Linked DNA regions of Homo sapiens. The protein of the gene in region 2 purifies or fractionates together with the protein of the main gene of each other region. This does not show direct contact. Each region holds a gene or a part of one and is shown on either strand. Other genes may lie near its edges. The genes, in order: LACRT, FN3KRP and PIGR.

The links.
Region 1: the proteins of FN3KRP (region 2) and LACRT purify together in Homo sapiens (affinity purification with mass spectrometry; 3 studies listed by BioGRID and IntAct, with this or other methods). This does not show direct contact.
Region 3: the proteins of FN3KRP (region 2) and PIGR purify together in Homo sapiens (affinity purification with mass spectrometry, with the first as the bait; one large-scale study listed by BioGRID). This does not show direct contact.

Annotation. Positions count from the first base shown.
Region 1 is NC_000012.12:54,632,015-54,636,231, reverse strand, and holds the start of LACRT (extracellular glycoprotein lacritin precursor), read left to right. Parts: upstream 1-1,336; 5' UTR 1,337-1,390; coding exon 1,391-1,448; intron 1,449-2,998; coding exon 2,999-3,052; intron 3,053-3,850; coding exon 3,851-3,991; intron 3,992-4,217. UniProt on the Homo sapiens protein: Modulates secretion by lacrimal acinar cells.
Region 2 is NC_000017.11:82,719,689-82,723,333, forward strand, and holds part of FN3KRP (ketosamine-3-kinase), read left to right. Parts: intron 1-583; coding exon 584-675; intron 676-3,115; coding exon 3,116-3,198; intron 3,199-3,645.
Region 3 is NC_000001.11:206,943,593-206,948,001, reverse strand, and holds the start of PIGR (polymeric immunoglobulin receptor precursor), read left to right. Parts: upstream 1-1,535; 5' UTR 1,536-1,666; exon of another isoform or gene 1,667-1,734; intron 1,735-4,409.

The DNA.
Region 1 (4,217 bases), on a different chromosome or scaffold from region 2:
TATCTCCTGAAAAGATTAATGTTCTAAACCCTGGCACCCAAAACACCCTCATGTTGAAAACTCTTCAATACCCCCTTCTCACACTCATCTTCAGAGCTACCATGAGGCAGAGAAGCCTCCGGAATCAGCCCACATGGGGCTGGGTGAATGCCAACACCAAGCAAGGGGAAAGTCACAAATTGACATCCAGCACCTTATTCTCCACCCTTCAGCCCCTCAACTGACTCCTGCTCCACGGCCCGTTCTATTAATATCTAGCATTTAGCACCAGCCTGGACAAAAACCTACTTGGAAAGATGGTACAAGAACCCCACACAACTCCATAGAACTTCGCTGTCTAAAAAAATGCTTTGCCGTATATTATCCCACTTAATCTCCACCACTATGCTGTACATAGGAGCCACAACTCCTAGACAACAAATAAAAATCCTATCACTTTTCAAATCCTAACATTTTCATATGACAAAGCCAGAACTCAAAATCCAGACCTCTAGAGTCCCAGATCAGGAAAGGAAGAAACGCCAAGTCAAAGAGAAGCTTCTTTAGAATAATCTGCTTTTCTGGATTATTCACACCATGGGTCAGCTCCCCACTTGAAGTCAGAACCAAGCTCCAATTTCAGTGAACCACCATCATGCTTTGACCAGGAGATTCTCTCAGAAATGTGGGGTCCCATTGAGTAGGCCTGAAGACAGAGATTGACAGGCCTATGTGAGCCTGGAGGAGTTCTTTTTAGGGGCTGGATAATGTCAAGAACAGAGAACAACTCCAGAGAAGGCACACACGCCTTCAAACCCATCCCCTCATGGGGAGAAAGCAGCCAGGAACTCAGGCCTCAAGTGTTCTAGGTGTGGTCTCCCAAGGAAACGGGCTCACTTAGTTTGGGGAAACCTTCAAACCCTGCACTGAGTCCTATGTAGACTGGGACAGAAGGTGGACAATGTAATCCCCTGAGCCCTCAACCTCCTCCTGGAGAGATGACAAGATTAAGATTTCTCTACCAGAACCCTCAACAGACACATCCCAGAATCTCCCCAAGTGAAATGTGCTCTACCTACCGTCCCTGAGAGCCCAGGGGTGTGAACCCAGAGGGCAGGTGTGGTGGGGAAGGGAGGAGGGAGAAAGAAAAGGGATGGCTGGGAGTTAGAGAAAGGCTCCTATCCAGGACCTGCCTGCAAGGATCCCAGGTATCAGCCAGCCCAACCTAGCCCTTGTTGACTTAGCAGGTGACAGTTTGGGGAAGAAGGGGAGGAGGATGCGGAAGTCACACCTCTCCAGGCTTGGTTCCCATTGGCCCTTGATATCCTTAAAAGGGCCCAGCAATTTCAGCATCCTTATTCCCCAGACCTTCTGCAGATTCTGTGGTTATACTCACTCCTCATCCCAAAGAATGAAATTTACCACTCTCCTCTTCTTGGCAGCTGTAGCAGGGGCCCTGGTCTATGCTGGTGAGTATGGCCTTTCCTCTGCGCCCCACAAGAGTCCTCCCAGTCCAAGGAGCCCCTCACTCCTGCCTTCACCCCTCTCCTCCTCTCTCAGTGCTATTCTGGTTTCCCTGCCTCTGCAAGTGACTCCTCTCCCAGTTCTCCACACGTGGCCTCTGCACCCCACTGGCCAGAGGAACCCAGAACTCTCTGGCCTCTGCCTGCCCTCCCAGCTCATCTCCTCACACACCATTGTTTACCCACTATGCCTCAGCTACACTGGCTTCTCTGGTGTCCCCTGCATGTAGTTGAGCAGGGTGTCCCCTACACGAGGGTGCCCAGGCAAGGAGTGGTAGAAGCTAAAATCTGGCCGACACTCTACTTGCCAAGCAGTGAGCCTGGCCCCTGGCTGTGTCTCTTAGGAGGAAGGGATGCCTTTTTTTTTTTTTTTTTTTTGAGACCGAGTCTCCCTCTGTTGCCCAGGCTGGAGTGCAGTGGCACGATCTCTGCTCACTGCAACATCCACCTCCTGGGTTCCAGCGATTATCTTGCCTCAGCCTCCTGGGTAGCTGGGACTACAGGCTCATGCCACCTTGCCCAGCTAATTTTGTATTTTTAGTAGAGACGGTGTTTCACCATGTTGGCCAGGTTGGTCTCGAACTCCTGACCTCAGGTGATCCGACTGCCTTGGCCTCCCAAAGTGTTGGAATTACAGGCGTGAGCCACCGTGCCCTGCTGGGATGCCTTTTTTGATCCACAGAAGCACTATTTGGGCCATGATGATCCTGCTGTTCCTTGAACATCAGGATCTTCCTTCTTGTCCTTTCCTCGTCTAGAATGCTTTCCCTCTCCCTGGCCCCTTCCCCCAACCAACTCTAATGTCACCTGGCCAATGATTTTTCATCTAGAAAATCTCAGTTTACATATAATTCCCCAAAAAGGCCTTCCATGCACATGCGGAACAAATCAGATCCATGTGCCCTTCTCGCACCAGGCTGCACGTTCCCTTCCAGCACTGTCACACCAGCCATTAAATAATTTCGTAAAAGGACAGATGTAAGCTCTGTCAGGGCAGGGGTCTTGTCTGCCCTCTTCAGCACTGCACCTCCATCTCTTGGCACAGAGCTTTGCATAAATGTTGTGTTGAAAGAATAAAGGGAATCAAGGCTGGGGTCTCAATCCTGCAAATCGCTCAAATATGGCCCCATAACCCCCACATACTGTCCTCCTCCACCACAGAGGAGGTTGAGCCCCTCTGACCATGGCCAGCTCCATGACAGACACCTCAGGGAAGCCTACCAAGCCAGGGGCCAGTCAGGAGGAAGGCACTGTTCCAAGAGACATTACACTTCTCAGAGGGGAAGTTATTTCAAAAGCCACAGGAGTTAAACATCAGAGAGTGCCCCAGTAGACCCGCTGATATGGTGGAAGGGCATGTCCAACCCAAAGGGAAATTGATCCCCTTCTATCCATGAGCATTCCCAGGAGATAAGCTTTGGGAATGGGAGGGGAGGGTGGCTCGAGTAGGTCCGGTTCGGTCCTTGCTCTCATCTGGCATGTTTCCCCCATTGCAGAAGATGCCTCCTCTGACTCGACGGGTGCTGATCCTGCCCAGGAAGCTGGGACCTGTGAGTCCTCCTCTCCCTGCTGCCCTAGCCCTCGTTGGGAAGGTTTAACAGTTAGGGATGTGAGTGGTGGCTGGGAGAAGAAGCCAGTGGGAGGAGATCTGGATTCTGTGCTTGGTGGTAATGGGGAGGGGCAGGTAATATAATAAAGAAGGTGGCATGGGTTGAAATGGTACAAGGCTAAGGACAAAAGAGGATGACCCAGAGAGGCAAGGACAATAGGGAGCATGGGGAAAAGGTTATTGTGAATAAAAGGGAGAGAAACATGAGGTTAAGTGGTAAGGGCAATGTCTCACATGGCATTAATACCTTCACCTGCAAACACCTCCCATTACTCCCAATTCCTTAGCAAGATAACCATTATCTGGCCTCTAACCTCATTTTCCAACCCCATTTTCCATGACTCTCTTTTATGTCGCACCCACATCAGCTAAATTGAACTTGTTTCCATTCCCCACACATGCCTTCGCCTGACCTCTTACTCACTGCCTGCCCCCAGGGAAGCCCCTTTGGTACATCCTCTCCTGCTAACATCCTGCCTTCAAGATCCAGCTTCTCTATGAAGTGCTCCCCGATTCTCACCATCCCCTAGTCCAAATCCTTCCCCAACCCTGCCCGCTGCATTCCAAGAGACACACAGCATGCAGAAATGCTATCTCCCTTAAGGGGGCAGCGTTTAAGCCATATCACTTCTGTATCCTGGCACCCAGCACACATTAGGTATCCTGGGGCCCTGCAACCCATTCCAAAAGAAACAAACACTTTCACTTTGCTAAAATCCATCAATTTGTGCATTCACAGCTAAGCCTAATGAAGAGATCTCAGGTCCAGCAGAACCAGCTTCACCCCCAGAGACAACCACAACAGCCCAGGAGACTTCGGCGGCAGCAGTTCAGGGGACAGCCAAGGTCACCTCAAGCAGGCAGGAACTAAACCCCCTGAGTAAGTCTCTGTCTCTATGCCAGATCAACAACCTAGAAAAGTCTCTGGCTGCAGGCCCACATCACACCTCCACGCACAGAGATAAGCCTGGTGAGAAGCAGGTAGACTCAAACAGCTGAACACAAAGGCACAAATGGGATTGTGCATTGCACCCACACACAACGTTTTCACAATAGTAGATGTTGCAGCCTGCACAATACATGGTTTCTGTCCTGGCTCACACAAC
Region 2 (3,645 bases):
AGGTTGCAGTGAGCTGAGATCGCACCACTGCACTCTAGCCTGGGCAGTAGAGCGAGACTCAGTCTCAAAAAAGAGGAAAAAAAAACCACTGCAAACTTGGATGAGGCTGGGAAAGATCGTCAAATAATCAACACCTTTATCCCCCTCTTGCTTCACCAGAACCTACTTTCTGTCCTCAAAATGTCCGACCTACTAGCCGGCTGTGGTGGCTCACGCCTCTAATCCCGGCACTTTGGGAGGCCAAGGTGGGCGGATGACTTGAGGTCAGAGTTTGAGACCAGTCTGGCCAACACAGTGAAACCCTGCCTCTACTAAAAATACAAAAAAATTAGCCAGGCATGGTGGCGGGCACCAGTAATCCCAGCTACTCGGGAGGCTGAGGCAGGAGAATCGCTTGAACCTGGGAGGCGGAGCTTGCAGTGAGCCGAGATCGTGCCACTGCCCTCCAGCCTGGGTGACAGAGCGAGACTCCATCTCAAAAAAATAAAAAAGTTTGACCCTCTTTATGTGCCCTGAGACTGAGCAGTGGGTGTGTTGCCATTCTGTGTGTCATCTGTTTAGTTGCTGTCGTTTGATTTGACAGTCATGCTGCAAAGCTTGGAGCCCAGCTGGCCGATTTACACCTTGATAACAAGAAGCTTGGAGAGATGCGCCTGAAGGAGGCGGGCACAGTGGGTATGGCACTGCGCGGGCCACGGGTGCTCCCGCCTAGAGGAGGACGTTCAGCCGGTGTGGGCTCAGAGCGGGGGCCGTGCAGCAGCCGTGGGAGGGTCGGACGTGGGCTGATGGCAGAGCAAGGGAATGTCGGCCTTGAGCCGCATCTCACGGTGCACTGAACACAGTGACTGTGATGCGTCTGTTGTGTCCTAAATGCATTTGAAAGATGAAAACATTTGCTGGACACAAGACACCCCTAGTGTTACAGTTACTTTTACCTCTCGTTCCCCAGAAGAGTGTAAGCAGAGGCTCTCTGGCTGTCTGTAAAAGGCAAGACCTTTAACCCAGGGTCTGTTCCTGTAAAACAGTCATACTTGAGGCTCAGAATTACAGCCATCATGTCTGACCTTTCCAGAGCATAACGCGCTGTCAGGATCGAGGGAATTTTCCGGTATTTTAATCTGCTGACATTTGGAATCCGTGTGCAGCCCACATGGTAAATGTGGGGAGATTTGCTGATGATCGGAACAGATCACCAGGGGCCTGCTGTAGGAGACGGAGACATGCTGTTAGTCTGTTCTGTGAGGGTCCATGACGGATCCACCCAGGCGGCCTGTGTGGTGAGGATCCACTGAGAGGCCTCCCAGGTCGCCTGTCCTGTCTCTTCCAGTCTTAACGGAGTTTAGTCCATTGGGATTTTCCTTGAATTAGGGAGACTGCAGAGGAGTGAGATTCTTTCTTTCTTTCTTTCTTTTTTTTGAGACGGAGTTTCACTCTTGTCCCCCAGGCTGGAGGGCAGTGGTGCAATCTTGGCTCACCGTGACCTCTGCCTCCTGGGTTCAAGCGATTTTCCTGCCTCAGCCTCCTGAGTAGCTGGGATTACAGGTGCATGCCACTGTGCCCACCTAATTTTTGTATTTTTAGTAGAGACGGGGTTTCACCATGTAGGCCAGGCTGGTCTCAATCTCCTGACCTCAGGTGATCCACCCACCTCAGCCTCCCAAAGTGCTGGGATTACAGGCGTGAGCCACTGCACCCTGCCTGAGATTATTTCAAAGCACAATAGTTTATCTGACACACATGGCACCAGGTTTGCCACTGAGAGCCATCCTTTCTGATGGATTGGGGGCAGATTCTTTTTCCTCTTTATTTATTTATTTTTATTTTATTTTTTTGAGAAGGAGTCTTGCTTTGTTCCCCAGGCTGGAGTGCAGTGGCATGATCTCTGCTCACTGCAAGCTCCGCCTCCCGGGTCCACGCCATTCTCCTGCCTCAGCCTCCTAAGTAGCTGGGACTACAGGCGCCTGCCACCACGCCTGGCTAATTTTTTGTATTTTTAGTAGAGACAGGGTTTCACCGTGTTAGCCGGGATGGTCTCGACTTCCTGACCTCGTGATCCACCTGCCTCGGCCTCCCAAAGTGCTGGGATTACAGGCATGAGCTACTGGGCCTGGCCTGTTTTTTACTTTTTATGTTTTTTATGTTTTGTTTTGTTTTGTTTTTTTTGAAATGGAGTTTTGCTCTTGTTGCCCAGGCTGGAGTGCAGTGGCGCGATCTCAGCTCACCGCAACCTCCGCCTCCTGGGTTCAAGTGATTCTCCTGCCTCAGCCTTCTGAGTAGCTGGGATTACAGGCATGCGCCACCATGCCCAGCTAATTTTGTATTTGTAGTAGAGATGGGGTTTCTCCATGTTGGTCAGGCTGGTCTCAAATTCCCGACCTCAGGTGATCCACCTGCCTTGGCCTCCCAAAGTGCTGGGATTACAGGCATGAACCACTGTGCCCGGCCATTTTTATGGTTTTTTTTGAGACGGAGTTTCACTCTCGTTGCCCAGGCTGGAGTGCAATGGAGCGATCTCGGCTCACTGCAACCTCCGCCTCCCGGGTTCAAGTGATTCTCCTGCCTCAACCTCCCGAGTAGCTGGGATTATAGGCGCCTGCCACCATGCCTAGCTAATTTTTATATGTTCAGTAGAGACAGGGTTTCACCACGTTGGGCAGGCTGGTCTCGAACTGCTGACCTCCGGTGATCCGCCCACCTCAGCCTCCCAAAGTGCCTTTCCTCTTTAAGAACATCCTCCCCTTTGTTTCCTGACACAGTGTGGTCTTCCCCCACACCCCCGCGTGTTGGGATGTGAGACAGGTCCCCTGAGAGGTGCCCGCAGGCTGCCTGTCCTGTGTGTGTCCTCTGGTGCCCCTGCTCGGGAGCAGCTAGTGTCTTTGATGCTGACGTCTGCTGGAGGCCACAGGCTCCTAGTGTTTTTGATGCTGACATCTGCTGGAGCAGGCTCTGTTAGGGGTGTTGTGTGAGCTGGTGGAGACCCAGGCCCTGTTTGTCTCTGGCAGGGGCATAAGCTGGTAGGAGCTCGCTGAGGTCGTGTCTGAAGGTGACTCAGTTTCGAGAGTGGGCGCTGGGATCCCTTGGAACTAATTTCCTTTCTTTTACTTTTGCTTGCAAGGGAGAGGAGGTGGGCAGGAGGAACGGCCCTTTGTGGCCCGGTTTGGATTTGACGTGGTGACGTGCTGTGGATACCTCCCCCAGGTGAGTGCACGGCGTTTGCTTCTATTTCACAATCAGGTCAGCTGTTCAGACACACGGGTTGGGGGGACACACCCCCCTCCTTTTTTTGTGAGCTTCAGTAAAAGTATTTGCACCATTTTTTCTTTGCTGATGTTTGAGAGGTTGACGTAAGATTGACCCACCTAATATGCTAGGTAAGCATGAAGAAACTGAGGAGGACCAGCAAGTTAGGAGCTGGATTTCAAGGTGGGTAAAAATGAGGGAATTTAACAAATGTTTTAGGTATACTAAACTCTCAAAGAGGGTGGAATGACAAGGGTTTGTCACTTTTGGTTGTGTGATTTTATGGTGGCTTCCCTCCGCATTTCCACCTGGGGAGTTCTGCTTGACGCCCAGCACATGTGCAGTGGACAGGGCTCCTGTCCTGTCCTCGAGAGGAGGGTACAGATGAACCCAGAAAACTTGCCA
Region 3 (4,409 bases), on a different chromosome or scaffold from region 2:
GAGATCACTGAATTGGGCTGAGCTTGCCTAGAAGTGACTAGGTAACTTGTTTTCTTTTATCAGTCAGATTATGGGTTTAGGGTTTGAAATTAAGCTACATCTGGAAGCCATCATCCTCATCAAACTAACACAGGAACAGAAAACCAAACACCACATGTTCTCACTCATAAATGGGAGCTGAACAATGAGAACACACGGACACAGGGAGGGGAACATTACACATCCGGGCCTGTTGGGGGGGGTGGGGGGAGGGAGAGCATTAGAACTAATAGCTAATGCATGTGGGGCTTAATACCTAGGTGGTGGGTTGACGGGTGCAGGAAACCATCATGGCACACGTTTACCTGTGTCACAAACCTGCACGTTCTGCACATGTAATCCTGGAACCTAAAACAAAATAAAAAAAGAAAATCTAAGTTTGCAAACCACAAAAAAAGAGAGAAATTAAGCTACATAAAGAAATTATGGGGTTTTTTTGCTTGCCATTGAAATCTGTGATTGTGTGTTAACACCCACAAGTGAGCCAGTGGTTAGCTAAAATAAGACCCAGGGCTCTGGCTGCCTTGTGTTTCTCCAGGGCTCTATTTCTCTATTTTTCCTTCCCCTTCTGGTGTTTGGCCTATAGGACTCTGTAGGGAGAGCCTGGGTCAGCCCTGCACAGGTAGGATGGGCAGCATTTCTGTGGGGGTTTGCAGTGAGGGGTCGGGGGGCCATACACGTGTGTGTTGGGGAGTGGGCTTCACTTTTGTCACAGGACTGCCACGATCATTTGGGGAACACCTGGGAGTCCCAACCAGGTCATGTTTTGGCATGGACTAACAGATAGGGAAGGAGGTGCTACTTCAGCTCAGCAGGTCAGCACCGTCCTTGCTATGGAGCCGAGCCCGGGTCCTAACAAGACTCTGAGGTCAGCCATGTTCAGGGGAGCCCAGAAGCAGCGAGTCTTTCATGACTCTGGGGAGTGAAACAGGAAGGGCCACAGTCCTGCCAGTTCCTGGAGCTCTGGGACTGGTAAAAGGGGCTTGGCAGGAGGTGTATAAGGGGCATTTTTGTCCAGGCTAAGTAACCTAGGGAGTCGGAGGGGATTCCAGAGCAACTGGGGATATGAGACCAAGGACTACGACAGCCACTCCTGCCACCTGTGCCCCATCAGATGATGTCAACTTCAAATCAAGCATTGGGCCAGGTATTTTAGAGCTAATACCGGGCTATATCCTCTACCTGTAGATTTGGTATTACCATCCCTCTTTTCCAGATGAAAAGAAATAGGAAGGTGACTTGCCAAAGGTCTTGCAGCTAGAAAGCGACAGAACAGCATCTTCACGCTTGACATTCTGTCCCTCATCCTGAAGCTGCAACGATGGAGGATTCCCAAGTAACAGAGTCTCCCCAAGGTCAAAGGAAACCAAATGGAGCCAGCCAGGAAGGCCAAAATGAAAGGAAAGCAAGGGATCTGTGAGAGTCACATGACCCTGGCTGGCCACGGTGCCTGTGGGAGAGTGGCCCTTTAAGAGCCCAGGTGTGGGTCAAACACTGAGCAGAGTTTCAGTTTTGGCAGCAGCGTCCAGTGCCCTGCCAGTAGCTCCTAGAGAGGCAGGGGTTACCAACTGGCCAGCAGGCTGTGTCCCTGAAGTCAGATCAACGGGAGAGAAGGAAGTGGCTAAAAGTAAGTGTTACTGCTCTGGGATCCCCAGACGGGATGCTATCTGGAAAGGGCTCGGGACGATGGCTCAGGTAACCCCCTCCATTCCCAACTCCCAGTCTCCTAGATAGTGGGGTGACAAGGACAAGGAGGCAGACTGTGTGACTGTGTGTGGCTGGGGAGTAAGCGTGCATATCGCAGTGGGACGAGTAGGGATGCACGTGTGTGGAAGCCCCCCATCCTTTTCTGAGAAATATCAGCAGGTGGGAAGGGACCTCTGTGGTCAGCATATGTAATTCTACTCTTTCAGCTTGGTCTGTGCCTGGATTTCCTAACTCCTCATAGTTGATTAACTGTGTGGCCTTAGACAAGCCACCTAACCTCTCTGATCCTCAGTTTCTTAATCTGTAAAACAAAGATAGAAATAACACCTATCATTCAGGGTCAATGTGGGTTCAAATGAGAAAACACAGGTGAAATAGCTTTGTAACCTCTAGAATGAAATAGGAATTGTTTCATATTTTTCAGTTTAGTTTAATTAATCAAGGATTTATTGAACACCAACAGACCTGGAATTAGATAGTGCGCATAAAGTATGGCACCTAGCAAGTCCTCTTCCATTCTTTGAGGTTTCCCACTTGTGGCTTTCTGGCAAAGGCATGTTCAGCTCCTTTTTTCTGGGCTTCCAAGAACCTCTGAAATCCTTTGCAATTCCACCTCGCTTTGCTCTAGCAGATTCCTGCCATGGGAGACATAAATGTGTGTCATCGCATCATCCTGCCCTTCCTAGAGGTAGAAAAAAAGAGGTCCTCACGGGATCACTGAGTGAGGTGGAGCTGAGCCCCACAGGCAGCATGATCAACTCCTGCTGTTCCTCCTGGCTCTGCAGCCAGCAGATCTCAGACATGGGCTTCCCCTCCCTTTGCCCATCCTGACAGCAGCCCAAGCCAGCAGTGGGACCGTCCGGCACAAGGGCAGCAGCGGGTCAAGCTCCATCCCTGACCCCCAGTTCCCTTTGTGCAATTGCCACAGTGCCTGGGGCCATTGAAGCTGCTCCTATTTTGTGCCATCACTTTCCCCCTTCACTAGGGGAATTATAGATCCTTTAACATCTGGAGAGGAGATGCCAATTTCAGGGGTTTAGGTAGAAGGCAGCTGTCTGGTGCCTGGACATAGGTCTTCCCAGAGCCAGATCTGGAATTCTCTCTCCATCCTTGTCCCGCCCCTGGATGTGCTAAAGTAGCAGAAAGAACACTGAGCCAGGAGTCAGGAAAGCAACTCTCTCTGCTTATCTCCTAGTGCCGCTAGACCTCTGTGGCTTTAGGTGATAAAAAATGGGGTCACACAGGCTTCCATTTAGTAAACCCACTTGCCCTGGGCTTTCACACCTTCGTCTCATTCTCCCTTGATACCAACGAGGAGGTAGGCAGGGTTGGTTTTGTGATGTCATTCCCTAGTTGAGGAAACCAAGACACCGTGAGTCTATGTGAGTGGTGTGAAGTCACCAGCAAGTTTGAACGATGAGGTTTTGGTACAGCCATTTTGATATGGTCATGAGGACATTTTGATGTCACCTAAAAAGCAAACTATCCAACTTAAAAAAAAATACCTATGCATTGTGCTCAGCAGAGACCTTCATCTATGTCTTGCCCTCTCTCTGGAGGGGCTGGGGCTGGAGTCCCAATGTCACTGGCATCGACACAGTATGGTGGAGTGGAAAGAGGCTTTGGCGTCAACATGCCTGGTTATACCCATGGTTATGTAACATATCCTACACATGGTAGGTGCTAAATAAATAGCAGCTAATATTTTCCAGGAAGAAATTTCTCTGTTGGCACCTACCTCTGGGTCCAGGTGTCTCTTCATTTTTTAATTTTTTATTTTTTTGAGATGGAATCTTGCCCTGTCACCCAGGCTGGAATGCAGTGGCGTGATCTTGGCTTACTGCAACCTCCACCTCCTGGGTTCCAGCGATTCTCCTACCTCAGCCTCCTGAGTAGCTGGGATTACAGACCCATGCCACCACACCCAGCTAACTTTTGCACTTTTAGTACAGATGGGGTTTTACCATGTTGGCCAGGCTGGTCTTGAACTCCTGACCTCATGATCCACCCACCTCAGCCTCCCAAGGTGCTGGGATTACAGGCGTGAGCCACTACGCCCGGCCCCAGGTGTCTCCTTATAAGAACTGCCTTTTCCGTGAAAGGCAGAGAGGAAAGAACTGAACAAATTCTCAGTTCGCTAAGATTGAATATCCTGCTTCTTCCTCTCTCCACTGCTTCCTCTCAATAGGAAGACCCTCTGAGGTAAAGCAGAGTGGCTAAGGGCCTATGCTCTTGATCTAGAATCCCATCTAAGTCACTTACCAACTGTGCAACCTTGGGCAAATGTCTCACCTCTCTGTGCCTCAATTATCTCACTCATGAAATGGGGTTGCCCATTTTGTCCCATCTCCTATGGTGGCTGTAAAAATGGAACACATTAACACATGTAAAGCACCTGGAAAGGACTCAGCGTACGTTCTTCTAGCCTAGCCCATAGTGCTTGTCTCCTCTCTTATCCACATGAGTCCAACCTAAGTAGCTCACTCTCCATCTCTCTATCTTCAAAGGATGTCCAGCAAGCAGACTTCTACTCTCATACCAAGTCCAGGGGACCTTTCTTCCTCTGAAAAAGAGGGAAACCTGAGATTAGATGGACAAAGGTTTGGACTCCACACCATGAGAGATGAAGTGCAGTCACTTTAACTGAACAGGAGCTAGTTAAA